Homo sapiens: one gene and its partners. The protein of the gene in region 4 interacts with the protein of the main gene of each other region in a pairwise test. Each region holds a gene or a part of one and is shown on either strand. Other genes may lie near its edges.

Evidence for each region.
Region 1: the proteins of PNLIPRP1 (region 4) and NDUFAF1 interact in binary tests that used the Homo sapiens proteins (3 or more experiments, as listed by UniProt).
Region 2: the proteins of PNLIPRP1 (region 4) and SLC10A6 interact in binary tests that used the Homo sapiens proteins (3 or more experiments, as listed by UniProt).
Region 3: the proteins of PNLIPRP1 (region 4) and MCFD2 interact in binary tests that used the Homo sapiens proteins (3 or more experiments, as listed by UniProt).

Annotation. Positions count from the first base shown.
Region 1 is NC_000015.10:41,386,849-41,392,523, reverse strand, and holds the end of NDUFAF1 (complex I intermediate-associated protein 30, mitochondrial precursor), read left to right. Parts: intron 1-4,001; coding exon 4,002-4,076; intron 4,077-4,930; coding exon 4,931-5,080; 3' UTR 5,081-5,171; downstream 5,172-5,675. UniProt on the Homo sapiens protein: As part of the MCIA complex, involved in the assembly of the mitochondrial complex I.
Region 2 is NC_000004.12:86,846,385-86,853,497, reverse strand, and holds the start of SLC10A6 (sodium-dependent organic anion transporter), read left to right. Parts: upstream 1-4,113; 5' UTR 4,114-4,382; coding exon 4,383-4,759; intron 4,760-7,113. UniProt on the Homo sapiens protein: Transports sulfoconjugated steroid hormones from the extracellular compartment into the cytosol in a sodium-dependent manner without hydrolysis.
Region 3 is NC_000002.12:46,905,807-46,912,837, reverse strand, and holds part of MCFD2 (multiple coagulation factor deficiency protein 2 isoform A precursor), read left to right. Parts: intron 1-1,964; exon of another isoform or gene 1,965-2,058; intron 2,059-3,660; 5' UTR 3,661-3,666; coding exon 3,667-3,815; intron 3,816-4,159; exon of another isoform or gene 4,160-4,868; coding exon 4,869-5,028; exon of another isoform or gene 5,029-5,954; intron 5,955-7,031. UniProt on the Homo sapiens protein: The MCFD2-LMAN1 complex forms a specific cargo receptor for the ER-to-Golgi transport of selected proteins. Plays a role in the secretion of coagulation factors.
Region 4 is NC_000010.11:116,587,092-116,593,961, forward strand, and holds the start of PNLIPRP1 (inactive pancreatic lipase-related protein 1 precursor), read left to right. Parts: upstream 1-3,867; 5' UTR 3,868-3,904; intron 3,905-3,921; exon of another isoform or gene 3,922-3,948; intron 3,949-4,038; coding exon 4,039-4,087; intron 4,088-4,679; coding exon 4,680-4,834; intron 4,835-5,324; coding exon 5,325-5,450; intron 5,451-6,870. UniProt on the Homo sapiens protein: May function as inhibitor of dietary triglyceride digestion. Lacks detectable lipase activity towards triglycerides, diglycerides, phosphatidylcholine, galactolipids or cholesterol esters (in vitro).

The DNA of each region.
Region 1 (5,675 bases), on a different chromosome or scaffold from region 4:
AAACCACACCCATGGTTCAGTTAACTTCACCTGGTCCCTCCCTTGACACATGGGGATTACTACAATTCAAGATGAGATTTTGGGTGGGGAGACAGCCAAACCATATCAGGACCCTTCAGTGGTTTCCCATTACAATTCGAATAAAGTCCAGGCTGGGCTAGGTGGCTCATGCTTTTAATCCCAGCACTTTGGGAGGCTGAGATGGGCAGATCACTTGAGGTCAGGAGTTTGAGACCAGCCTGGTCTACATGGTGAAATCTTGTGTCTACTAAAAATACAAAAAATTAGCAGCAGGTGGTGGCACACGCCTGTAGTCCCAGCTCCTCAGGAGGCTGAGGCAGGAGAATCGCTTGAACCTGAGAAGTGGAAGTTGCAGTGAGCCAAGATCGCGCCACTGTACTCCACCCTGGGTGACAGAGTAAGACTCCATCTCAAGAAAAAAAAAAAAAAAAAAAAAGAATAAAGTCCAAACTCCTGCACATGGCCTATGGGCCTACAATATCGGACCCCTGTCTTCATCTTCCATCTCTCCTCCTGTCTTCATCTTCCATCTCTCCTCCTACCTCCTTCCTCCACACCAGCCCCTTTTCTGTCAGATTTAACAACCTCATTTCCATCTCAGAGCTTTGCACTTAGTGTTGCTCTGCTGTAATGCTCTGCCCCCATGTCTTCACCTGCTTTCTCTTTCCTGTCATTCACCTCTCGGCTCAAAAGTTGCCTCAGAGAGGCCTTTCCTGATTCCTGTAACTAAAGTTGGACCCTCTAATCCAGTTATTTCAACACCACCATCCTATAACTTTCTTCATAGAACTTATCACTAACTAAAATTACTTTGTTCATTCATTCATCTGTTTATTGTCACTCTACTGCCTTCCCTGGAACATAAATTATATAAATTCTTTTTTTTTTTTTTTTTAAGATGGAGTCTCACTCTTACTGCCCAGGCTGGAGTGCAGTGGTGTGATTCCAGCTTACGGCAACCTTTGCCTTCCAGGTTCAAGAGATCCTCCTGCTGGGACTACAGGCGTGTACCACAACGCCCGGCTAATTTTTGTATTTTTAGGAGAGATGGGGTTTCATTCACCAAGTTGGCCAGGCTGGTTTCGAACTCCTGACATCAAGTGATCCACCCGACTCGCCTCCCAAGGTATTGGGATTATAGGCGTTTGAGCCACCACACCTGGCCCTAAATTCTGTAAATTCTGTGAGAGCAGAGATCTTGCTTATATTGTTCCTACCAGTTTCCCCTGTACCTAGAATTTTGTCCTAGTGCCTAGCACAAAATAAGCACTCAATACATACATATATATGTAGTAATACAGATATATAACACAAATTATATATACTTGTATTTAAGTAATATATATATAATGAATTATTATACAAAATAACTACTTCATTATAAAAACAATTTGGGAAGTACAGAAAAAAATCTTGTACTACCACTATCCAGTGATAAAATACTATTTTTATTTTATTTTATTTTTATTTTTGTAAGACAGAGTCTCGCACTGTCGCCCAGGCTGGACTGCAGTGGCGGGATCTCGGCTCACTGCAAGCTCTGCCTTCCAGGTTCACACCATTCTGCCTCAGCCTCCCGAGTAGCTGGGACTGCAGGTGCCCACCACCACGCCCAGCTAATTTTTTGTATTTTTAGTAGAGACAGGGTTTCACCGTGTTAGCCAGGATGGTCTTGAACTCCTGGCCTCATGATCCGCCCACCTCGGCCTCCCAAAGTGCTGGGATTACAGGCATGAGCCACCATACCCAGCAGATAAAATACTATTTTTTTTTTTTTTGAGACAGAGTCTGGCTCTGTTGCCCATGCTGGAGTGCAGTGGCACGATCTCTGCTCACTGCAAGCTCCGCCTCCCGGGTTCACGCCATTCTCCTGCCTCAGCCTCCTGAGTAGCTGGGACTACAGGCACCTGCCACTACACCTGGCTAATTTTTTGTATTTTTAGTAGAGACGGGGTTTCGCCGTGTTAGCCAGAATGGTCTTGATCTCCTGACCTCGTGATCCGCCTGCCTTGGCCTCCCAAAGTGCTGGGATTACAGGCGTGAGCCACCGCGCCTGGCACAAAAATACTATTTTTAATATGTATCTTCTACACTTTTCTAGTCACACTTTTCCCTTCCAGTGGTGTTTTATAACATATATACAGTATTTTCACTGAACTATTGTTTACAACTTTCTCTTCAAATATATTTCTACATCATTTTTAATGTCTGCATGATATTATATAAGTAGACAACAATTTTGGCTGGGTCCAGTGGCTCACATCTGTAATCCTAGCACTTTGGGAGGCTAAGGCAGTGAATCATTTGAAGCTAGGAGTCTAAGACAAGCCTGAGCAACATGGCAAAACCCTGTCTCTACAAAAATACAAAAATTAGCCCAGTGTGGTGGCATGTGCCTTTAGTCCCACCTACTCAGGAGGCTGAGGTGGGAGGATTGCTTGAGCCTGGGAGGTCAAGGCTGCAGTGAGCTGAGATCACCCTACTGCATGCACTTCAGCCTGGGTGACAGAGTAAGACCCTGTCTCAAAAAAAAAAATTTTTTTTTCTTAACTTGTTCTTCATTATGTACATGTAGATTTAGATTGTTTTCAGAGTTTTCTACTGTCGGAACAAACTCTGAGGTAAACATCCTTAACTATTTTCATAGGCTATATTCCTAGAGATAAAATTACTGGAATAACTATTAATATGTATAATTCATTTTTATTTATGTTCATTAAAATTTATTTACTTATTTGAGACAGGGTCTCTCTTCTGTTGTCCATGCTGGAGTGCAGCATGGGCTCGCTGTAGCCCCAACCTCCCAGCCTCAGGTGATCCTCCCACCTTAGCCTCCTGAATAGCCAGGACTACAAGGATGCACCACCATGGCTGGATAAGTTTTTTGTTTTTTTACTAGAGTCTTGGTTTCACCGTGTTTCCCAGGCTGGTCTTGAACTCCTGGGCTCAGTTGATCCTATTGTGTTGGCCTCCCAAAGTGCTGGGATTACAGGCATGCACAACCAGGCCCAGCCATTTTCTTCCTTTGTTAAACTCAAAATATAAATAAAATTAGCATACTCTGTACCTGTTTTTTGTGTTTTTAAAATTTAGGAATATATCCTGGAGAGCTTCTGTATAATTATTTAGGCAGGGTGTGGTGGTTCATACCTGTAGGCCAAGGTTGGCAGATTACTTGAGCTCAGGAGTTTAAGACCAGCCTGGCTAACATGGTGAAACACCGTCTCTACCAAAAAAAAAAAAAAAAAAAAAATTAGCCGGGTGTGGTGGTGTGCGCCTATAGTCCCAGCTACTCAGGAAGCTGAGGTGGGAGAATCGCTTGAACCTGGGAGGTGGAAGTTGCAGTGAGCCAAGATGGCACCACTGCACTCCAGCCTGGGTAACAGAGTGAGACCCTATCTCAAAACAAAACACAAACAATTAAAGCCAGATATAGTTTTAAAAGATCGTGCTTAATAATAAGTAAATTACATAGAGAAGAAATATGAAAATAAAGTTGATGAATAAAAAGGCACACTTGAAAGTTCAAGAGTAGAAGGAATAGGACATTTCTTTTAGTTCAGTTTCTAATGTAGGAAGGAAGGGAAACGTTAAAATTCTTTTTTCTTTTTTTTCTGAGATAGAATCTAGCTCTATCGCCCAGGCTGAAGTGCAGTGGTGTGATCTTGGCTTACTGCAACCTCTACCTCCCGGGTTCAGGCAACAAAGTGAGACCCCATTCTCCACAGAAAGAAAAAAAAAAAAAAGCTGTGTTTAGGATACTAGTCTTTTTTCCATAAATGTTACAAATATTTTTTTCATAGTTAACCCTTTATCGTTTGGCCTGAGTTATATCTTTGATCCAAATGGCTAGCCATTTGTCATAATACATATATGACATAATTTTAGAATAAATGTAAACTCATTTTATCGTTACAATTACATGCAGATGCCTCAATTGCTTACATTTCAGTTATGAAGTAAATGGTTTCTTCTTTCAGATTCCTTTTTCCAAATTTTTCTTCTCTAATCGAGGAAGAATCCGGGATGTTCAGCATGAGCTTCCGCTTGATAAGGTAACATATTCCTGTATTTTTCACTCAGAACTGTATCATTTTTAATGAATCGGAACTCTGGGGAGACTGAGTTCATTTGAGAAGGCTGGCAGATGAATATTTCTTCTCAGGGCCACTGCTCTTATACCCAGCCAGAGGCTGACTTAGACCTCTCCTATGAACCATACCCCCATCCTGAAGGAATTTTAGAAGGATCATTTTTTAGCATGCCTACATTTTACTTTAGCTATTTTCCCCCCTCCCTTCTCTCCTAATTTAGCTTTAAAATAAGAGTTTATGAACGCTTCAAGGAACTCCATTAGGCATTCATGTCGTCCTTACTAGTCTTTTTGTTTTTTGACATGGAGTCTTGCTTTGTCACTCAGGCTGGAGTGCAGTGGCATGATCTCGGCTCACTGCAACCTCTACCTCCCGGGTTCAAGCATTTCTCCTGCCTCAGTCTCCTGAGTAGCTGGAATTACAGGTGCCTGCCACCACACTTGGCTAATCTTTGTATTCTTAGTAGAGACGAGGTTTTACCATATTGGGCAGGCTGGTTTTTAACTGGACCTTGTGATCTGCCCACCTTGGCCTCCCAGTGTTGGGATTACAGGCCTGAGCCACGACGCCCGGCCGTCCTTCCTAGTCTTAAGTGGCACTACCTAATGAGGAGAGGGGAGGAAGTTGAATGAGGAAAGAAAAGCAGTCTTGTATTTCCTCTTACAGTATGCTATGGGAGAATTAGTAGTATTTGCTAAGGGCTGATAGCATTAAAACCCAGTTATAATCATCACCTGATGGGATTTTAAACTCCTGGAATAATCTCAGTACGTCACTGTATGAGATTTTAATCAATTTCTGTATTTTAAATTTAGATCTCTTCTATAGGATTCACCTTGGCTGATAAAGTGGATGGTCCATTCTTCCTGGAGATAGATTTTATTGGCGTGTTTACTGATCCAGCTCATACAGAAGAATTTGCCTATGAAAATTCTCCAGAGCTTAACCCAAGGCTTTTTAAATAAAGATCATATGGTAGTTTTGTTTTACTAATCTAAGGGTACTAGCATCTACAATGATATAGACAAAATAAAATATTTCTTTAATGGCATCCAACCAATGGCTAGTATGTATTCTCTCTCTTTTTTTTTTTTTTTTTTGAGATGGAGTTCTGCTCTGTCGCCCAGGCTGGCATGCTGGCGTGCAGTAGCGTGATCTCGGCTCACCGTAACCTTCGCCTTCTGGGTTCAAGCTATTCTCCTGCCTCAGCTTCCCGAGTAGCTGGGATTATAGGCATGCACCATCATGCCCAGCTAATTTTGTATTTTTAGTAGAGACAGGGTTTCTCCATGTTGGTCAGGCTGGTCTCGAACTCCTGACCTCAGGTGATCCGCCCGCCTTGGCCTCCCAAAGTGCTGGGATTACAGATGTGAGCCACCGCGCCTGGCTGGCTAGTATGTATTCTCTAAGACAAGTTATAATGCTGTTGCTGGCCAGGCACTGTGGCTCACGCCTGTAATCCCAGCACTTTGGGAGGCTGAGACGGGCGGATCACTTAAGGTCTGGAGTTCGAGACCAGCCTGACCAGCATGGTGAAACCTCGTCTCTACTAAAAATACC
Region 2 (7,113 bases), on a different chromosome or scaffold from region 4:
GCTTCCCAAAGGGTCACATCTGGCCAGGGCCTTCTTGCTGCATCGTAACATGTCAGAAGGCATCACATGGCATTCCCACTATAACGAACCCATTCTTCCCCACTATAACAGCATTCATCTATCCAGAGCCCTCATGACCTAATTACCTCTTAAAGGGCCCACTTCTCAACATTGTTAAAATGACAATTAAATGTCAACATGAGTTTTGGAAGGGACACTACAACCATGGAAGATGTTGATCACTTTTTTTCAAGTATTTTGTCTTTTTTTCTGGGAAGTGATAGTGTTTTTATTGTTGAGTTAAAAAAATACTGAATTTGGCTTTTTACCTTGTGTCATGTCTGAGTAAACAGTCTACTTTTTCCATTACTGCCAATTTCCTTTATATCTGTTTTGGATTTATCTCTCATGAATTTACGTAAACTCTTTTTGAACCTATAGGATTTTTCTGTCTTTCAAGCTTCTAGAAGTTTTACCCTGTGCTGCCTTTCAGAGCGTGGGAAACAGTTCCACAGCCAAGTCTGGTTACCTTTTCTTTTGGCACTTTCCCCTCAGACTTTACATTCCCAGCCTTTTCTGTTGGTTTTCCTGAGGAGTATCTTTCACCCCAAATTCTACTTACAGAGGCTGGAAGTACATGAAATACTTCCTGTGATTTGTAGAACTGGATCTCAAAATGAAGGTGCATACATATTGAACATATGTAGATGCCTTTTGAGTGTGTGAGAATAGAAGATAATGTTAGAGATTAGGGATTAGTTTATTTCTCCATCCTTAAGCCAAATAGTGGTGTTTTACCCCTGAGCTATGCCTAAGTGGTTGCCAGTCTTTTCCGCATGGTCTTGCTCTTGACTGCTTTTCATTGCTTCCACTTCAGTGTGCTCCAGGGAAGGAAACGAGGACAGGTGGAGAATTAGATTGAGATTTAAATCCCAATGTTATAATTTACCTGCTTAATAATCTTCGACAAATAATATGGCCCCAATGGGCCTTTGTTACTTCCTAGAATAAATGTGAGGATTAAGTGGGATCTCATAATCTGCCTCACTGGCTTGGGATGTAAAGTTGGTCATGCTTTTTAAAATTTTCTAATTAATCATTTGAATCTCTACTTACCAATAAGGGCAGGAAGTCTGCGATCCTGTATTTGAAATCTTCTTTACAAATTGACCGAGAACCCTAAGTGCTTACTCTTCCCAGGAAAATCTCCTTCCCATCTCCACTGGGGAGAAACTTGGAAAAGCCTGACCAGCCCGCTGGTAGGCCCTGGGATCACTGCGGTTGTTTCTGTTGGGACCTTTTGATGCATTGGCCCCACCCAGTCCAGTGGGCCTTTATCCATTGCCACCCTGTCCCTTCCGGTCCAGTCCTGGCACACAACATGGCGGTGTCCAAGCCTGGGCTCTCAAGATGACTTCTCTTCAGGTCATATCCATATACTTAGTCATTGTGTCCTGTGGCATCTGTCCAGGGTGACTGGACACAGAGGAACCTGTCATCAGGCAAGAAACCCCTGTCTTTCCTGGTGTGTGTTAGGACCAGCTGACCTCAGTCGGAAACATCCTAATTCTTTTGAGAAATTCTGATAACACTACTTTTTTTTTTTTTTTTTTTTTTTGAGACGGAGTCTCGCTCTGTCGTGCAGGCTGCCAGGCTGAAGTTTGGTGGCATAATCTCCGCTCACTGCAAGCTCCACCTCCCTGGTTCATGCCATTCTGCCACCTCAGCCTCCTGAGTAGCTGGAATTACAGGTGCCCGCCACCACACCTGGCTAATTTTTTTGTATTTTTAGTAGAGAATGGGTTTCACCGTGTTAGCCAGGATGGTCTCGATCTCCTGACCTCGTGATCCACCTGCCTCAGCCTCCCAAAGTGCTGGGATTACAGGCATGAGACACTGCGCCCGGCCAACACTACATTTTAAAAGAGAAGTGGCCAAGGTCACCTTTCTCCCTCTCCCAGGAGGCTCCTTAAGGCTGCTATGCATATTTAGCCCCCTCCCCTCTATCAGCACTGAGTACCCAGCAATCACAAAAGTTCCCGTCACACCATTCTCATCAGAAATGGGGGTGCTTATACCATCCTTATCAGGAATGGAGGTGCTTATACAAAACTTAAATTTGTATAACTAAAAAGGGCGATTCAAGTGACTCTTCCTGGGAACAAAGAAGGTTGACACTTTGGGAGGCTGAGGCGGGCAGATCACGAGGTCAGGAGATCGAGACCATCCTGGCTAACACTGAAACCCCGTCTCTACTAAAAATACAAAAAATTAGCCAGGCATGGTGGTGGTCGCCTGTAGTCCCAGCTACTCAGAAGGCTGAGGCAGGAGAATGGCATGAACCCGGGAGGCAGAGCTTGCAGTCAGCCGAGATCGCGCCACTCCACTGCACTCCAGCCTGGGCGACAGTAGGAGACTCCATCTCAAAAAAAAAAAAAAAAAAAAAAAGAAGGTTGACTAAGGGGCTTTTGGACATTATCTAGGCAGACACCCCTGACCCCTTCTCTTGCTAAATAAGTAAATAAAGTTCTGCTTCACCAGACATAGCCACATATGTGTAAAGCACCTAGCCACCTGTATTGGTCTGTTTTTACGCTGCTAATAAAGACATACCCAAGACTGGGTAATTTATAAAGGAAAAAGGTTTAATTGACTCACAGTTCCACATGGCTGGGGAGGCCTCACAATCATGGCAGAGGGGGAAGGGGAAGCAAGACACGTTTTACATGGTGGCAGAAAAGGCAAGAGCGTGTGTAGGGGAACTCCCCTTTATCAAACCATCAGAACTTGAGAGACTTATTCACTATCATGAGAACAGCACGGGAGAAACCCGCCCCCATGATTCAATGACCTTCCACCAGGTTCTTCCCATGACACATGGGAATTATAAGAGCTATAATTCAAGATGAGATTTGGGTGCGGGGGAAACACAGCCAAACCATATCACCACCTCTGTCACCCCTGAGAAGTGCTCAGAAAATGTTAGCTGTCTCCCTCCTCCCTTCCTCCTCAGCCTGACCACACCTCTGCATCATTCAAGCTGGGAACACCTTGCCTTCCAGAGACCTTTCCCGTTCCTCAGTGTCCATTCTCTGCAGGGCTCTGCGTAAATACGCCCTGTGCTGACTGACCCCTTATACGCAACCTCCAGGGAGGCTGGATGGCCAGAGCTGCCTTCAGGGTTTGTTTGCCAAAGGCAGTTTATTCTTTCTTCAAATAGTTAGAATTTACTTCACATTTGAATCTAACTTGTATTTTTATACAGTCAGCATGTCCTGAGCATTCTGTCATGGAGAAGAATTTGCTCATCCATGAATAAACAATGCATAGCTAGTATCCCTCTTGAGACAGGTAGAGGCGTTTATGAAGTGTGCCTTGTTACTAGCCTGTGCCCCACAAATAAACTTTCTGCTGTGAGAAGGGGTGTGGCACCTGCTTTTTCAGAGGTTTAGTTTCACAGAACCATACAGTCCTTGGGTTTTGCCAGCAGTGCCTGCTTAGAATGCACAGAGGGGCCCTGGGCACTGTGGTCAGAGGCTGTCCTCAGACCCCATCTCCATTTCAGACCAAGCTCTTTACCACATCCCCTTGCAGGATTCCCAGATGTCCCTAGGAGGCCAGGGGTATGTATCTCAAAGTAGACTCTTATCTCCAAAAGCAAGTGAGAGCTCCCTTGAATTATTTTGGGTGAAGGAATTAGTTTTCACATGTTTCATGAGACATAATTAGGTGCCTAATACCATATTATTCTCACAGGTGTTTAATTATTGACTTTAGACACAAATTCTAATAGAACTAGAAGAAAAACTGAGACAAATTCTGAAGCTCCTTGAAATTATTCTTAGTCCCTCCTGACATTTCCTCCACCGGCGTTTTTTTTCTTTTTGCTCTATTTCCAGCAGACACGCTTTGCTAATGCTACAAGGTGTGGCTTTGGCTTTGTTGTTTTTTCCGGAGTTAGCTTTTCTGTCTGTGCATCCTGGCTCTTTGAAATCCCAACTGAATTTGGAGAAATTATTTCTTGGCATCCACCCTACTTTCCAGGGACACAATGTGATGCTGACGACATAGCCCGGTCACTCCACTTGACAACAAGTTTGTTTGTCTCATCTCACATACATATTCAGTGGTGAGTAAGAACAGAAGTGGAAAGCCTTACTTACCACAGTTTATTATATGTTTCATGCCTGTGATAATTACTTTTATAATGCCACTTGTGAAAAAATTGATCAGATTAGGATGAATCACCTTGCTGGCCAACAGTTATTGGAATGATTCTCCATGTGTGACTTCGTTGCACTATTACAAAATGTGGCAGGATAGACCTGCCCAGCCATTGTTGCCGATGTTCATTTGTAATGCTGCCTTAAGGAGATGAGGAGATGAGAGCCAATTGTTCCAGCAGCTCAGCCTGCCCTGCCAACAGTTCAGAGGAGGAGCTGCCAGTGGGACTGGAGGTGCATGGAAACCTGGAGCTCGTTTTCACAGTGGTGTCCACTGTGATGATGGGGCTGCTCATGTTCTCTTTGGGATGTTCCGTGGAGATCCGGAAGCTGTGGTCGCACATCAGGAGACCCTGGGGCATTGCTGTGGGACTGCTCTGCCAGTTTGGGCTCATGCCTTTTACAGCTTATCTCCTGGCCATTAGCTTTTCTCTGAAGCCAGTCCAAGCTATTGCTGTTCTCATCATGGGCTGCTGCCCGGGGGGCACCATCTCTAACATTTTCACCTTCTGGGTTGATGGAGATATGGATCTCAGGTAAGTAACCCCAGGGAAGCTCAGCAGTCTGTCTCTTATCCTGCCTAGGGGGAATAACTGAAACTCTTGTGTTAAACACTCTTCTAATCTTTTGGTAGAGATTCTAGTGGGAAATGTTACAAATATCACAGAGACTTGTTCAGCCATGGGTGGGCTTTCCTTTCAGTGCTCAAAAGTTACTTTGCTGATGATCATTTTCTTTATTGGCTACTGTTCTGAGCAGTGGGATGCGTTCTGAGCAGTGGAGGCAGGTCTGCACCTCACCCAGTGGCCCTTCCTAAGCTTGAGCTCATTCTTACCTACACTGGCCTCTTTAGCAACTCCTAGGACTTAAACCAAGAATCCCAAGAAGCTAACGATTGTGGTTTGGTAGCAGCCGTCGTGGTTGTGTCAGTGGCATAGTCAGAATGAGACTCCCGTAGCTCCAGTCAGTGATGCCTGAGCACCTACTTTAGGAAAGAAGCACTTTAGAGGACTGGATAAAGGAGCTTTAGGGGTGTCTGGTGGCCATATCCAGCTTTAAGTGCTGAGATGGCTTGTCGATTTGACTTCAGGAGCAATGCGAAGGCTCTCAGGACTAAAATTGTTCTTTCTTGTTGCTTTGCAGATCGTTAACATCATCACTAGATTCGCATTCCTTCCCTTTAAGCCAGTGACCTTATTCCCAATTATGGTGTAGATAAATACCTCTGGGAGACATTAAGCCTTGTCCCTTATTTACACTTTAATGAGGATGAATTAGTCACATGCTTTTCTGGATTACATGTTTTGATGGGGGAAAAAAAGAGCATTTGAGGAAAGAGTAGAGGGATAGCACTGGAAAAAGAGCTAAAAACAATGGTCTCTCGAGACTCTTTGCTTACTTGTGAACATGCCGTTTCACTTCCTGCCCTGGGGAAGAACTGCTTATAAATTTAAGTATTTGTTTCATGTGTATGTCATTTAGTTGAGATTCACTTTACCATGAATGAATGAATCAGAGGTAATGACTGAGCTGGGAGTTGACATCAGTGAGAGTCAGCTGCAGGTATGTGTTTCCAGTTTTCCGCTTGTGCTGAATGTTTAGCGTATGGAACATATTTCACCTATAAATTTTAATGGGCTCATACCATGCAGAATAGGAACTAACTTTCCCAAGGCAGTGTTTTTGTTTACCCACTTATGAGAGATTTGAAAAAAAAATAACTTGATGAATTTTGTGTTTTACCTTAATGGTAAAAGCCACTCATATACAAAGCCACTAATATACACTGCTTTTGTGTTTTACCTTAATGGTAAAAGCCATTAATATACATTGCTAATTCAAATTCAGTAAAGTTGATTATTTAACTGGGAAATGATAGATATTCTTTGCATGAAGTTCATAAATCAGAGATAAATTCCAGGACCTAAAAGTTTTTGGAAAGAAAAAGGAAACTAATATTTATTAAGTGCCCCATAGGCATGGGATAGATGCTTTCATGCTTATTTTCTTCTTGGGGCTCATAATAACCTTGTAAATGGCCTTTTATTGTTCTGAATTTTACAGCTGAGAAAATTGTGATTCAGATTGGTTAAGTAGCTTGCCAAATGCTACAAACCAGTATGGCAGAACTCAGATTTGAATTCTCATCTGTTTTACATCAGTCTGCAGTTTAGGCACATTTCCCCCATGGCATTTAGCAACACAACTAGATCTTCTGTTTTGAATAGCAGCATAAATCTTCAGTGTTCTCAAACACTTGTGTTCTGGGAAAGAGAACATTTATTACCTTAATCTCTTATTAGTCAATGTTGTCATAAAAACACCAATGAACAGGAAACCTATGAAAGATAAAGCTACTTTTACTTTCTTTTGCCAACTCTTATCTTTAATTCACCTTTAACTTTGTTCAAATTATTTAACCTATCTAAGCCTTATCTCATCATTGGCAAAATGGGGTTAAATTTACCTATTTCTCACAAGACTGTATATATATGTATATATATGTACACACACTCAAACACACACACACATATATAGATAATAGTTTGGGGTGGAGTTTCACTCTTGTCGCCCAGGCTGGAGTGCAATGGTGCGATCTCGGCTCGCTGCAACCTCCACCTCCTGGGTTCAAGTGATTCTCCTGCCTCAGCCTCCTGAGTAGCTGGGAATACAGGTACCCGTACCCACCACCGTGCCTGGCTAATTTTTGTATTTTTAGTAGAGATGGGGTTTCGCCATGTTGGCCAGGCTGTTCTCAAACTCCTGCCGTCAGGTGATCCTCTTGTCTCGGCCTCCCAAAGTGCTGGGATTACAGGCGTGAGCCACGGCGCCTGGCTGACACAAGACTATATTTATGGAGGAAATATATATTTGTGTGTGTGTGTGTATT
Region 3 (7,031 bases), on a different chromosome or scaffold from region 4:
ACACAGGCTAAGAACCAGCAGCTTCTGTTCCAGGCACTGTGCCTGATACTGGGAATGTGGATTCAGTCCAAGTCCTCTTAAAGCCCATCCAGCAAGGGGCACTGACAAGTAATCAGGCAGTTTTTCAAGAATTCATTCACACACAAGAAAACAAAAGAAAAAAAAGAATTAATTTGCAGCTGTCATCAGCTGTGGACGGGAGCCTTCTGAAGGGAAGCACTTGGGAGCCTGCAGGACGAATACCTACACCAGACTTGGAATTGAAAAGACCTCACTGGAGAAAGAGACATTTGATGTAAATGAGTCTGAAAGGCTTGGGAGGAGCTTGATTCCCTTCTCTGATCCTTCCTGTCCCAGAACTCTAAGATGTGTGGTCAGAACAAGTTGTTCTGCTATGGCCTAGGCAGTCACTGCTAGGAGTAACCTGAAACCTTGTTTTGTGGTACCAGGTACAGTGGCAGTGGCCTTGTCAGGGTCTGGACACGTTTAAAAAATTTTTTTGAGACAGTCTCACTCTCTTGCCCAGGCTGGAGTGCAGTGGTGTGATCTTGGCTCACTGCAATCTCTGCCTCCCGGGTTCAAGCAATTCTTGTGCCTCAGCCTCCCAAATAGCTGGGATTACAGGTGCACGCCACCATGCCCAGCAAATTTTTTTTTGTATTTTTAGTAGAGACGCATTTTGCCACATTGGCCAGGCTGGTCTCAAACTCCTGACCTCAAGTGATCCACTTGCCTCGGCCTCCCGAAGTGTTGGGATCATAGATGTGAGCCACTGTCCCTGGCCAAGGTCTGGGCACTTTTATTTGGTAAAATTGGAAGTGTAGTTTCTGACTGTTTCTGAATTATTTTGTGGAGATAAGAATTAACCGGAAACTCCTTTTGTATCCGATCCATATAGTATTGGGACAAAATTATGGGATAGATTACATTGAATACATATTCATAAAAAATGGTAGCAGATCTCGGCTCACTGCAGGCTCCACCTCCGGGTTCATGCCATTCTCCTGCCGCAGCCTCCCAAGTAGCTGGGACTACAGGTGCCCGCCACCACGCCTGGCTAATTTTTATTTTTGTATTTTTAGTAGAAACGGGATTTCACCGTGTTAGCCAGGGTGGTCTCGATCTCCTGACCTCGTGATCTGCCCGCCTCGGCCTCCCAAAGTGCTGGGATTACAGGCACGAGCCACCATGCCGGCTGAAAATCACAATTCTAATCTCATGTCTCAAGATAATCTTTGTTATTAGTTTGTGTAGGAAATACACATTTTTATTTTACAAAAGTGTATTATTCTTTATTGCTTTTTTGCAGCCTGTTCTTTTTCATTCAATATATATTGAGCATTCTTTCCTATTAAGTATGACATATTGCTTTTTTTTTTTTTTAAACTACAGATATAAAAGGTCTGAGGTGGCCGGGCACGGTGGCTCATGCCTGTAACCCCAGCACTTTGGGAGGCCGAGGCGGGTGGATCACCTGAGGTCTGGAGTTCGAGATCAGCCTGGCCAAGATGGTGAAACCCTGTCTCTACTAAAAACACAAAAATTAGCTGGACGTGGTGACATGCACCTGTAATCCCAGCTACTCGGGAGGCTGAGGCAGGAGAATTGCTTGAACCTGGGAAGCGGAGGTTGCAGTGAGCCAAGATTGCGCCACTGCACTCCAGCCTGGCGAAAGAACAAGACTCTGTCTCAAAAAAATAAAAATTAAAAAATAAAAGGTCTGAGACAGATTGCATTTTGATGTCACTGTTTAGAAGTAGACTAGATTCTAGGTGCTTTTTAGCACCCTGGAAGTTTCTTCCTTTTTTTGGTGGTGGAGGACAGGGTCTCACTCTGTTACCCAGGCTGGAGTGTACTTCAGCCTTGAACTCCTGGGCTCAAGCAATCTTCCTATCTCAGCCTCCTGAGTGGCTGGGACTATAGGGGTGCACTGCTACGCTCAGCTAATTTTTTATTTTTTGTAGAGATGGGGGTCTGACTGTGTTGTCTAGGCTGATCTCAAACTCCTGGCCTCAAGTGATCCTCCTGCCTCAGCCTCCCAAAGTGCTGGGATTACAGGTATGAACCACCATGCCTGGCCTATCCTGGAAGTTAGACATCCCAGTGACTATTGTCCCCTTTAAGGAGGGGGCCATGGGAAGCAATACTGGTAATGGGAAAAACGGATTTGGGAAATTTTTCTAAGTGTTGTAGGGTGGCATACTCACACTTTCAGGGTTCTGCCCTGAGAGCCTTTTAGGATGGGTAAGAGGGACTATAACACCTCTACCTCTCAGCCCCAGGCACAAAGACAGCTACAGCTTCTGAGCTGAGCCCTGTGTGTAGCATGTAAAGGGGATGACCAGTGCCTTATGGTTTGTCTTTACCACTGCTGGTTTGGGGCTGTGGACTACAATTGACCTGTTAGAAATCCCTGGCCTTGTTATCTAGCAGAATCTGTTTTGCCTGTTGGGAAGTGAGTGTTCGGTCAGGTCTTTTGTTTTTGTATGTAGGTCACCTGGCTGTCCTTCACCTTCCTTTTTGAGGTCAGTCTGTCAGCCCTAGGACAGACCAAGACTTTCCATTGAATCAACAATTATTAAAGGCCTGCCTGACCCTTGGCGGGTAATACTGGTGGGGTTAAAGTTCTCCCTGCCCTCCAAGAGCTTGCTCTGTAGCTGACTGTCATCTTATTGACCACAATTCCAAGTGTGGCCAAACCCTGGGAGTTCCTGATGGCATCCTGATTTCTCTGTAACTTTTCTTTCCAGTGCCCGCTCACTGTAGTTACTTGCCACTGTTACCACCCAGGAGGTACAGAACCTTGTCCGCTGCCGCAGACCTTGATCTGACCCGCCTTACCACTCCCTTGGCTACCATGCTCCTGCCTCTAGTCTTGCTTTTGCCACTTCATGCCTTCCCCACTGTGCTGCCAGATGAGTCATTCTGAAACCAAGCTCTGATCTCACCTCCCATTCATGAATTGTAAGTGACTCTCCTGTCTTTCTCTGCAGGAGATGTCAAGCCCTGGCCTAGTGTGCAAAGCCCTGTCCAGTACAGCCTGTCTAGGCCTTGGAGCCACCTCTGTCCTGTCTGCTTCCTACCCTCTAGGCTGCAGCCCAGCTGAACTACTTGTAGTTTCTTTCCCGCTTGTGGGCACCTGCCACTCTGCTCCCACCATTCCTGTGGTCCTTCAGTCCCTGCATATCTGTCCAGGCCCAGCTGAAGTGTCACCAGCTCTATCAGCCTTCTCTGATTTTCCTCCACTCGGAGGAGATTTCTTCCCCTGAACTCCTAGAGGGTTTTCGCTTTCTCTGATAATCTGATATAACTTGCTGGCTGCCTTTCCTGGTGCTCTTGATAGAAAATATTTCTTTCAGGGGACCATAACTTCTGGGAGGCAAGAATAATCTTCCAGTCCCTTCAAGCTTTCACGTGTTGCTTGGCACTCTGCAGGCACTTCAGGAAACCTCGTGAGCCTTCCCCTGCCATTTGAGTGACTTGGAGTGCCCAGGGTCATCCCACAGTCTCAAAGCAGAGCTGGCATTGGGCCGTGTTTGACAAGCTCTCTTCCTAACCTTACTGCTTCATCAGGTTTCCCAGGATCATACCATGTCAAGCCCTGAACGAAACCTTTGCTCTGATGCTCTGCCTTCCTCTTCTGTGTTTCCCATCTCACAGATATTGATGACCATGAGATCCCTGCTCAGAACCCCCTTCCTGTGTGGCCTGCTCTGGGCCTTTTGTGCCCCAGGCGCCAGGGCTGAGGAGCCTGCAGCCAGCTTCTCCCAACCCGGCAGCATGGGCCTGGATAAGAACACAGTGCACGACCAAGAGTACGTATTCAGCCCGGGCTGTGGTCCAGTGGCCTCCCCATCATCTGCAGCTGAGCCAGCGGCAAGGGCATGCTCAGTCCTCCTTTCCTTCTTCCTGTTTCTATGGCTCCTTGACATTCTTCAAGGATGATTCTTATTCCTTATTGCCACCTATAAGTCAGGTATTCTTTTTTCATCATTGTATCACAGGTGGAAGATCTTTAGGCCCAAATGGGGCACATTACTTGTCTGAATCCGGTCTCTCCTTTTTTTCACCACAGACAGACACACACACATACAAATAGACACACAGGTACACATACACAGTCATAGTAGCAGAATCCAGAAAATAGCTAAGGTTTCTTGACTATAACAAGACCTTTTTTAAATCAACACATTCAAACATTGAATCATTTGTTGCAGCTTTTGTCTTGGGCCAGTTAGCCTCACGCATTATACTCGGTTATCCTTTGTTTTTAAGGCTGGGTGCAGTGGCTCACACCTGTAATCCCAGTGCTTTGGGAGGCTGAGGCAGGTGGATTACTTGAGCCCAGGAATTCGAGACCAGCCTAGGCAATATAGGGAAAACCTGTCTCTACTAAAAAATTGCAAAAAATTAGCTGGATGTGGCAGTACATGCCTATGGTCCCAGCTACTTGGGGGGCTGAAGTGGGAGAATCAACTGAGCTTGGGAAGTTGAGGCTACAATGAGCCAAGATCACGCTCCTGCACTCCAGCCTGGGTGGCAGAGTGAGACCCTGTCTCAAAAAAAAAAAAAAGTTTTAAAGGACATATTTTTAAATTGATGGCCTGAAAATGTTATAACAAAATTCTAATAATAAAGAGGAAAGAATACCCTAATCCTGCCAGCATAACAGATGGTCTATTTGACTTTTCCTGCTCCTCTCAAGGCCTTGTCTATCTCTGTGTAATCCTTGAGTGTGGTCTGCCACTGCTGGTGTTTGTTTTTCTGAGCTGGAGGAAGTTTAAGATCTTGAACTTTTCAGAGTCCTTAAGATTTCAGCATGATCCCAGTATCTGTCAATTGGCCTGAACCTGACTGTTGATTTTTAGGCATATCATGGAGCATCTAGAAGGTGTCATCAACAAACCAGAGGCGGAGATGTCGCCACAAGAATTGCAGCTCCATTACTTCAAAATGCATGATTATGATGGCAATAATTTGCTTGATGGCTTAGAACTCTCCACAGCCATCACTCATGTCCATAAGGAGGTAGGTCTGGCAGTGGCTTGGGGGACTGTATCACAGAAAGGCTTCCCTTTGTTAATTTGGTCCCCAGTCTTGTTGACTTGTGTTGTCCTTATGTGCCAAGAGTGCTGCTTCTCCACTGGGCATGATGGCTCGCATCTGTAATCCCAGCACTTTGGGAGGCCAAAGTGGAAGGATCACTTGAGCCAGGAGTTCAAGACCAGCCTTGGCAATATAGTGAGACCCTGTCTCTACAAAACAAACAAAACAAAAATTAAAAAATTAGCCAGGCCTGGTAGTGCATGCCCGTAGTTCTACGTACTCAGGAGGCTAAGGTGGGAGGATTGCTTGAGTCCAGGATGTCGAGGCTATAGTGAGCCATAATCATGCCACCGCACTTCAGCCTGGGCAACAGAGTGAGGCCTTGTCTCAAAAAGAGAAAAAAAGAAAAGAAAAAAAAAGGTGCTGCTGCTTCTTTCTCTTCTGTGTTCTGCCTCTTTCTGTCCAACGATCCTTCCCGCAAAGGATAACTTGCTGAGGCAGAAGTCCCAGGGCTGGGCATTTGTATCTTTAAGTGCTACAGGCATTTCTGTTACACACCAGAGTATGAGAATCAGTGCCTAAAAGACAGACCGTATTCAAACTGCAGAGCAAGGGAGAAGTTGTTTAATGGTGAATTGACACCAAGGGATTCAGGGACGTGGCAGTAATTGAGGGCTTGTGTGATACTGTATGGTGCTCCAAAGTTTCTGAAGCCCTTTCAAGTAGGTTAGAGATCTCGTTGGATCTTTGCAACATCTTGAGTAGGCAGTGGCAGGCATTGTTAATACTTCCATTTTCAGTGGTGCATGCCTGTAGTCCCAGCTACTCATGATGCTGAAGTAGGAGGATCACTTGAACCTGAGAGGTTGAGGCTGTGGCAAGCTGCGATGTTGCCACTGAATTCCAGCCTGGGCAATAGAGCGAGATCCTGTCTCAGAAAACAAAAAACAAACAAAACCCTCCCATTTTCTAGGTGAAGACACTGAAATCAAGATCTTGTGCCAGGCTAAGCACAGTGGCTCATGCCTATTATCCCAGCACTTTGGGAGGTTGAGGCAGGAGGATCGCTTGAGCCCAGGAGTTCAAGACCAACCTGGGCAGCATGGTGATATCCCGTCTCTACAAAAATTAGCTGGACATAGTGATGCTTGCCTGTAATCCCAGCTGCTGGGGTGACGGGGTGGGAGGGTAGTGGGGAGGAACACCTGAGCCTGGGAGGTCGAGGCTGCAGTGAGCTGTGATCGTGCTACTGGACTCCAGCCTGGGTGACAGAGTCAGACCCTGTCTCAAAAAAAAAAAAAAAAAAAAAAAAAAAATCCTCGTGCCTCCACATTTAATGTCATTCCCCTTCTGCCACACTGCCCTCTATAGAGAGGAAGCAAGGCAAAGTTAGCCAGGTGAGTGGGATTACATTCGCTGCTAGGAGTGCAGGTGAGGTTTGAAGGCAGCAGGGAGCATGAATGATTTTGCACAGGAGAATGGCATTGTTTAGGGAAGATCCTTGGTTGTGGGAGACAGACTGAAGGACATGAGGAGAGACTAGTGTTAGGCGGAGGAATTAGGGGTCAGCAGTCCTGGCAGATGAGGATAGTGGTGGTGACAGGAGAGGGAATGGTGAATGTGGGAGATGTGGCAAAGGAAGAACCAGCCAAGGATGTGAACAGCCTCAGCCCACTAACCCTGCTCTTGGAGCATGGGAAATACTTTCTCCTCAAAGATCATAACAGGTTCTGCTCATCGGCAGTGCCTTCTTCCTCTTGTTTTGATGCCAACTTGTTGTCCAATTCGTCACTGTTTCTATTTTATCAGGCAAATTTGTGCACAGAGCTGACCCTCAGGAGGACTGGCACTTTTCCAATTAAAGAAGAATGAGCCATAATGAAACAAATAAGCAAAAGCCTATTTTGAAGGGCCTTCTTTTAACTGGCAAATGTAATTTCTAAACTGGATTATGATAAATTGACTCAATAATACATATTCTCTCT
Region 4 (6,870 bases):
CTGCTAACACATTAGATTTCTAAGAATTTATTAGTTTGTGGAACATGAAACAACATATTTATACAAGTATAACTAAAAGAAGGTTAAATATAATTTCTTATTTACAATGTTTCCCATATAATTTAATGTATTTAATAAGCCTAATTGGTTTAATATGTCTCTTCCTTTGAGAAGCTCCAGGGACCCTCTAGTATGTCCCAAAGTCATTCTGAGATCAAAAGACTTAAATTAGAATTTCAGAAGTTTGTAAGAAATGTCAAAAGACCTAAAACATTTTCTTAAATAGGATCTTGGTCATTATGAAACAACTAAAGGTAAGTACAGAAAAGTTACACAGTTTTTAAAAGCTTAGCTCTTTTAATATTAAGAAGACAGTTTGTTATGGCTTCTGGGCAGTATTCAGAGAAGAGAATTGTAGGAGACAAGACTAGGATGGTCCTTGAGTAAGCATTCATGTCTTCCACAAACATGTGCTGAGCACCTACCATATGTGAGGCACTCCGCTAGGCATTGGAGACACAGAAGTGAGCAAAAAAAAGACCCAGTTCCTGGTCTCCGAAGTCCATGGCAGCTGGATGATGAGGACTTCCTCATGGACAAGCAGAGGCCCCCAAAAGTGGCTTCAGCCAAGTTTTGGGTGTAAATCAACCGTTTTGATACTTGTATGGAGAGCAAGTTCTGATTATTTCCCTATCTAATCGTCATTCAAGTTTGCAGAACTTCACAGCACCCAGATTCTGAAGGCTGGGAGTTGTTCTGGAAATGCCAAGGACCCCTACAGAGGAGCGCAGACTTTTGGACCTAATGCACTCCAACTGGCACCAGGGTTTGTCTGGCCTCGGTGAGATCTACCAGCGGTCATCAAGGACTTTGAGAACTCTAGGTGAAACTCAGAAGCTGAGTTCACTTCCCACAGACAGGTATCTCTAATAAAAGAAAAAGAAATCAATAGCTGACTAATGATGAGGCAAGTTCTTGTACCCTACTTCCATTACAACACACAGAGGGAGAGTCTGCCAGTTCATGGGATATTTAGAAACATAGTTCAATGTAATACAGTCTGATTCTAGGCTCTGGAAGAGATTTAAAAACCAGCTTTCTCAAAACAAACATTTCTCTAAAATTAAGGGACTCCGAAAACCCACCTTGAACCCAACTCTATCATTCCCCCAGAATTAAAATTGAAGGAGCAAACAAGGACAGAGCTGATTGCCTGAAGGAAAGCAGATATTTGGGCTTCATCTACACATGTATGTATAACAGATAATGGCTGGTGACTTCATTCTTTACTTTTGTGACCTTCAATGAGTCATACGTCTTGAAGACCTGAGAGCTGTCTGGTGGAAATGAAGTCATGGTTTCAAAAAGAGATCCACAGATTTGTATGCCTATGAATCCTTACTTGTGACCCTGAAACTGGATGTAAGTTCAATCAAAATATTCCAGTTGTTGGCCAGACGCAGTGGCTCACGCCTGTAATCCCAGCACTTTAGGAGGCCGAGGCGGGCGGATCACTAGGTCAGGAGATCGAGACCATCCTGGCTAACACGGTGAAACCCCGTCTCTACTAAAAATACAAAAAAATAGCTGGGCGTGGTGGCGGGCACCTGTAGTCCCAGCTACCTGGGAGGCTGAGACAGGAGAATGGCATAAACCCAGGAGGTGGAGCTTGCAGTGAGCCGAGATCGCGCCACTGCACTCCAGCCTGGGTGACAGAGCAAGACTCCATCTCAAAAAAAAAAAAAAAAAAAAAAAGAAAAGAAAAGAAAAAAAGAAATTCCAGTTGTTATTGTTGTTTGAAAGACTCACCCAGAAATCTTTCCATCTGGTGTGGAATGAATAAATTGTCTGACAGCCTGTGAAGGAGAAGCAGCTTGAACCTCAGCCTTGCTAGAGGCTTAGTCTAATTAAATCCCCTAGAGCATTTAAACAGGAGCCAGTGCATTGGAGCACAGTGTATATTGACTGATGCACGGAGTTTCCTCATTGTCTTAGGAAAGGGTATGCTCGAACCTGGTGCTGTGTGCTAAAGAATAGTAACAGTGAGTGCAACAGGTGCTGCTGTCTCTGAATTCCAGGCCTGGCTTGGGTTCCTGTATTGGTTAGCTACTGCTGCATAACAAACAATCACCAATTCAGTGGCTTAAAGCACTGAATTAAAGCATTTATCCATGCTCAAAAATCTGAGTTTGCTGGGTGGTTCTTCTGGTCTTGGCTGGATTTACTCATGCCTCTGTGGTTACAGTGGGTTGAGTAGGCAGTGCCACTAATCTTGGCTGGGTCCTTTACATACTTGGGGGACAGCTGGCTTTGAGTTGTTCAAAGATGTTGCTGTTACCACACTTAATGACCAAATCAAGTCATACCATGTCTAGCTCAGATTCAAGAGGTGGAGAAATAAACTCCACTTCTTGATGGAAGGAGCTGCAAGATCACATTGCAAAGGGTGTGTGTACAGGAGGAAGGGATGAAGAACTCTGACCACCTTCCCAGTCCATCACCAAGTCTAGCCTGTTTCTCCATCCTGGGGATGCCTGGAAGTAGGGAGGAAACAGGTCAAGGGCCAAGAGGGTTTTCACATTTTCTCTTTTGACTCATTCTGTGTATCCCTCTTGTTCTACATGGTTGACATCCAGTGAAGCTTGCTGATTACTAGCTCAACACAACTGAATATTCAACAACTCTGTACAGCCTGAATTCAAATCTTACCTCATCACTCGTTAGTCGTGTGACTTTTTAGGCAATTTACTTATCTCTCTGTGCCTCAGTTCCCACATTTATAAAGAGAGGCTTATGGGATTGTTTTAAAACTTATTAGGTAATACACGTAAGGTGCTTGGAATTCTGACTGTACTTGGTAAGGCTTCGTAACAGTTGGCAGCTATTCTTTATGATTCCAGGAGTCCTTTCCATTTTCTTAAGAGGAAGGCCCTTAGGCCTGCACCCTTGTGTTTTGGTTATTTAAGATTGAGAACTTTGACACCGAGGCATATTTAACTTGGCAAGGGGAGGCACTCATGGTGTTTGCTTTGTGAAGGCTTATCTGCCTTGCTGTGTGAACTGGCTGGGCTGTTCACAGATGCAGAGGTCTCTGGTTATATCATGATGGCTTTACAGGGTCCAAGAATTATCTGCAGGTGTGCAACCTTCAGAGGACCTGGGGAAACTCAACAGACATGACATGGGCCTCTGGGGGCTCCTGAACCCAACTATTGAGATTACAGTGGCATAATGCAATCATTGCTATTGTTTTAAAGTGTTGTCTTTTGGATTGGTTCATTGCATAGCAATATATAACTGGAATAGGCAGTTAATGGGAGGATTGTGGTCAGAAGCTACTGTGAGGGCTGTTGAATTTTTCTCCAAAGCTCAGATGCCCAGTATTCCTAGTCTTCGAAAGAGAGAGAGGAAGATTGAGAGAGAGAGAGAGAGAGAGAGAGAGAGAAGAAGTTTTCTTAATCAGAGATTTCTCTTTACTTTCAACTAATTGCAGGTATTTTCATCTATTCTAAATGAGAAATACTATCCTCTATCATTAGGGTTTGCTGCTGTGTCCCTATTGAGACTTGTAAACTATTTGGTGATGAAATAGAAAACTGAAAAGTGAGGGCCCATTCAGCTCACAAGTACATGCATAGTTACATAGGTACAAGGTTGGTGACTTCACTCCCTGCTTTAACCAAGCATTCTGTCATATTTCCAGACTTGTGGGAAGACTTGACAGCTATTATTAATCTTGTTTTGTGTATTTGGGCAGATTAAAGTATTAAGTGCGCACAGCATGGGCTATAATCACCTGCTGTTTTCTTGAAGTAGTGTCCAAATGATAAGGCTGGAATATATATTTTTAGAAAGGGCTGGACACTCGATCCGGTGGGAGGGAACATCTGGAACATTAGACAGGGTAAGCCACCTTTGCAACTCCTTTCCCCCTGCTGTGACGTACAGGTGAGGTAAACAGTACTGAAGTCCAGGGCGTCGGTGCTCACTGCTCTGGCAATGCCCGGTGAGACTGAATTATGTTTAAATTTATTGTAGATGCTGATCTTCTGGACAATCACACTTTTCCTGCTGGGAGCAGCCAAAGGTAAGAAACACCACTCCTGCCCCGTAGGAAGGGCTTAAACTTAAGCTCTCAGCCCTGGCCAGAGAAAGCTTTAACTGTGGCAGGGCTCCCAGCAGCTCCAGGGTACCAGAGAGAAGATGTGGGCTGACACTCTGCCTGGGAGAGTAGGCTGGGCAGTTTAAGGGAGACCTGTTTCTGGGGATCCCCCCAGTGGCCTACCTTCATGCTCGGGGTGCCCAAGGCCAGACATTTCTAGGTAAAGCATGAAACATCTGCCTGAGTTAACATATTGACTTATCAATGCCCATGATCACATTGGTCAAATAAATGTATCAGAAGAGCTAGGAATGGGACTTAGAACTTTCCAGTTTTGAGGGTAGTTCTAAACAAAGGCTCCAGTGGTGTCCCTGTGGGATTCAATGGGACTGATACTACTACCGGCCAGTAGTAGGTGGGCACTGGGGTCAAGAAGAGAGTGGGAGGGGTTGCAGTAGGTTCATCCATTGTCTTCAGACTGTCCCTGAATAGAAGAGTGACCAGGCCCGAACAGCAGTGACACCCCAGAGCACACCTTGAGAGCAAATCCTTGAGCAGATTCAACCTTTCTCTGTAGGAAAAGAAGTTTGCTATGAGGACCTCGGGTGCTTTTCTGACACTGAGCCCTGGGGCGGGACAGCAATCAGGCCCCTGAAAATTCTCCCCTGGAGCCCTGAGAAGATCGGCACCCGCTTCCTGCTGTACACCAATGAAAACCCAAACAACTTTCAAGTGAGACCTCTGTCATTTAAATGTCACTGTAACTGGCACGGGGCTATGCCCACCCTGCAGACCATGAATACCTTATCTCTGTGCCCTCTTCCTCCACCATGCCCCACCCCATCCCTCAAGCTGCCCCCCAGACCTAGCTAGACCTAGACAGAGCAGGTCTTTAGTAATGTTGGCTTGAATGAATGAATGGTTCACATTTGCCAGAACCTCTAGCTACTGTGTGATTCTGGTCTGGGGCAAACAGCTTACTGTCTAACAAAAACCACAGGGAAGGTAAAACCTCAAACCACAATCCAGGCCTAGTGGAAGCAGTGATTACTCACCTGGAGAGATGGGGCAAGAAAAGGGAGATCAGGGTGGGCTTCATGGAAGAAGTGGCTTTTTGCTAAGCTTTGAAAAGTAGAGGCATTGGCGCAGGCGGAGATGAGGAAGGAAAAAGGCCTGTGAGGCTGGGCTGCGAAAACATGAAGCACTTCTGCGTCTGTCACAGATTCTCCTCCTCTCTGATCCATCAACAATTGAGGCATCAAATTTTCAAATGGACAGAAAGACCCGGTTCATCATCCATGGCTTCATAGACAAAGGAGATGAGAGCTGGGTGACAGACATGTGCAAGGTAGGAGCCAGCTCTGATCCCTGTGGCCAGCTGAGGCCAACACTTCTGCTAACATCTCTGCATCACTTTATGCACTCAAGAAATCTTTACATATTAGGTAACTTTATGCAATTAAAATGCTTCTCTTCACAAAAATTAAAATGCCTTTCCATGTTTCCGCACTACATCTGCACACTGAAGCAACCACATTTGCTGTTAGAAAAGTACTCCTACTACCTAATTTCTGGTTAAACCAAGGCCTGATGTTTTCTGCTTCCATTTGTAGTGAGGGTACTTTGTATCCTATAAGCGAGGGACTATAGGGGTTTCTTTGTTCAAATTTTTCCCACATCCCTGAGAGGCTGACATGTGTTGCTGTGACCACTTAATTGATCCCAGCACTTTGGGAGGCCAAGGTGGATGGATCACCTGAGGTCAGGAGTTCGAGACCAGCCTGGCGAACATGGTGAAACCCTATCTCTACTAATGATACAAAAATCAGCCTGTTGTGGTGGCAGGCTCTTGTAGTCCCAGCTACTTGGGAGGCTGAGGCAGGAAAATTGCTTGAACCCAGGAGGCAAAGGTTGCAATGAGCCAATATTGTGCCACTACACTCCAGCCTGGGCAACAGAGTGAGACTCCATCTCAAAAAAAAAAAAAAAAGAAAACTAAGATTAAGTTACTACAATGACAGAATAGAAAGTGTCACCTACATGTAATATAGGTCAGAAGGAGAGCAACAGAAGAATACACACATGTGCACACACACACATACATACATGGACATGTGTGCAACTTGTGCATACACACACAAACACACACACATGTGCGTGCAATATACCACAATATACCATCATCCTTTCTATTTATGTGGAGACTAGTTCAATCGATTTTTCTGTCACCTAAGAATTTACCTACCCCAGGAGCCTGCCTTCCACACATACATTAATAACACCAACCAGTAATGTCAAAAGGAAAAATTACAAACCCAGAAAATTAAAGTCATTCTGCACTTGCCCTTGGTTTAACAGGCATTTCACTCTTGGCACCTTTCCTGTCCTATCATTAATAAGCATCTTATTGATACAGTTTATACTCCAAATTCTCCAGGCTTGTGAAAGTTTCCTCAGGATTGCTTGAAAATGAAAGTCCTGGCCAGGTGCGCAGTGGCTCATGCCTGTAATCCCAGCACTTTGAGAGGCCGAGGCGGGTGGATCACCCGAGGTCAGGAGTTCAAGACCAGCGTAGCCAACATGGTGAAACCCTGTCTCTACTAAAAGTACAAAAATTAGCCAGGTGTGGTCGCAGGCGCCTGTAGTCCTAGCTACTCAGGAGGCTGAGGCAGGAGAATTGCTTAAATTCGGAGGCAGAGGTTGCAGTGAGCTGAGATCGCGCCACTGCACTCCAGCCTGGGCGACAGAATGAGGCTGTCTCAAAAAAA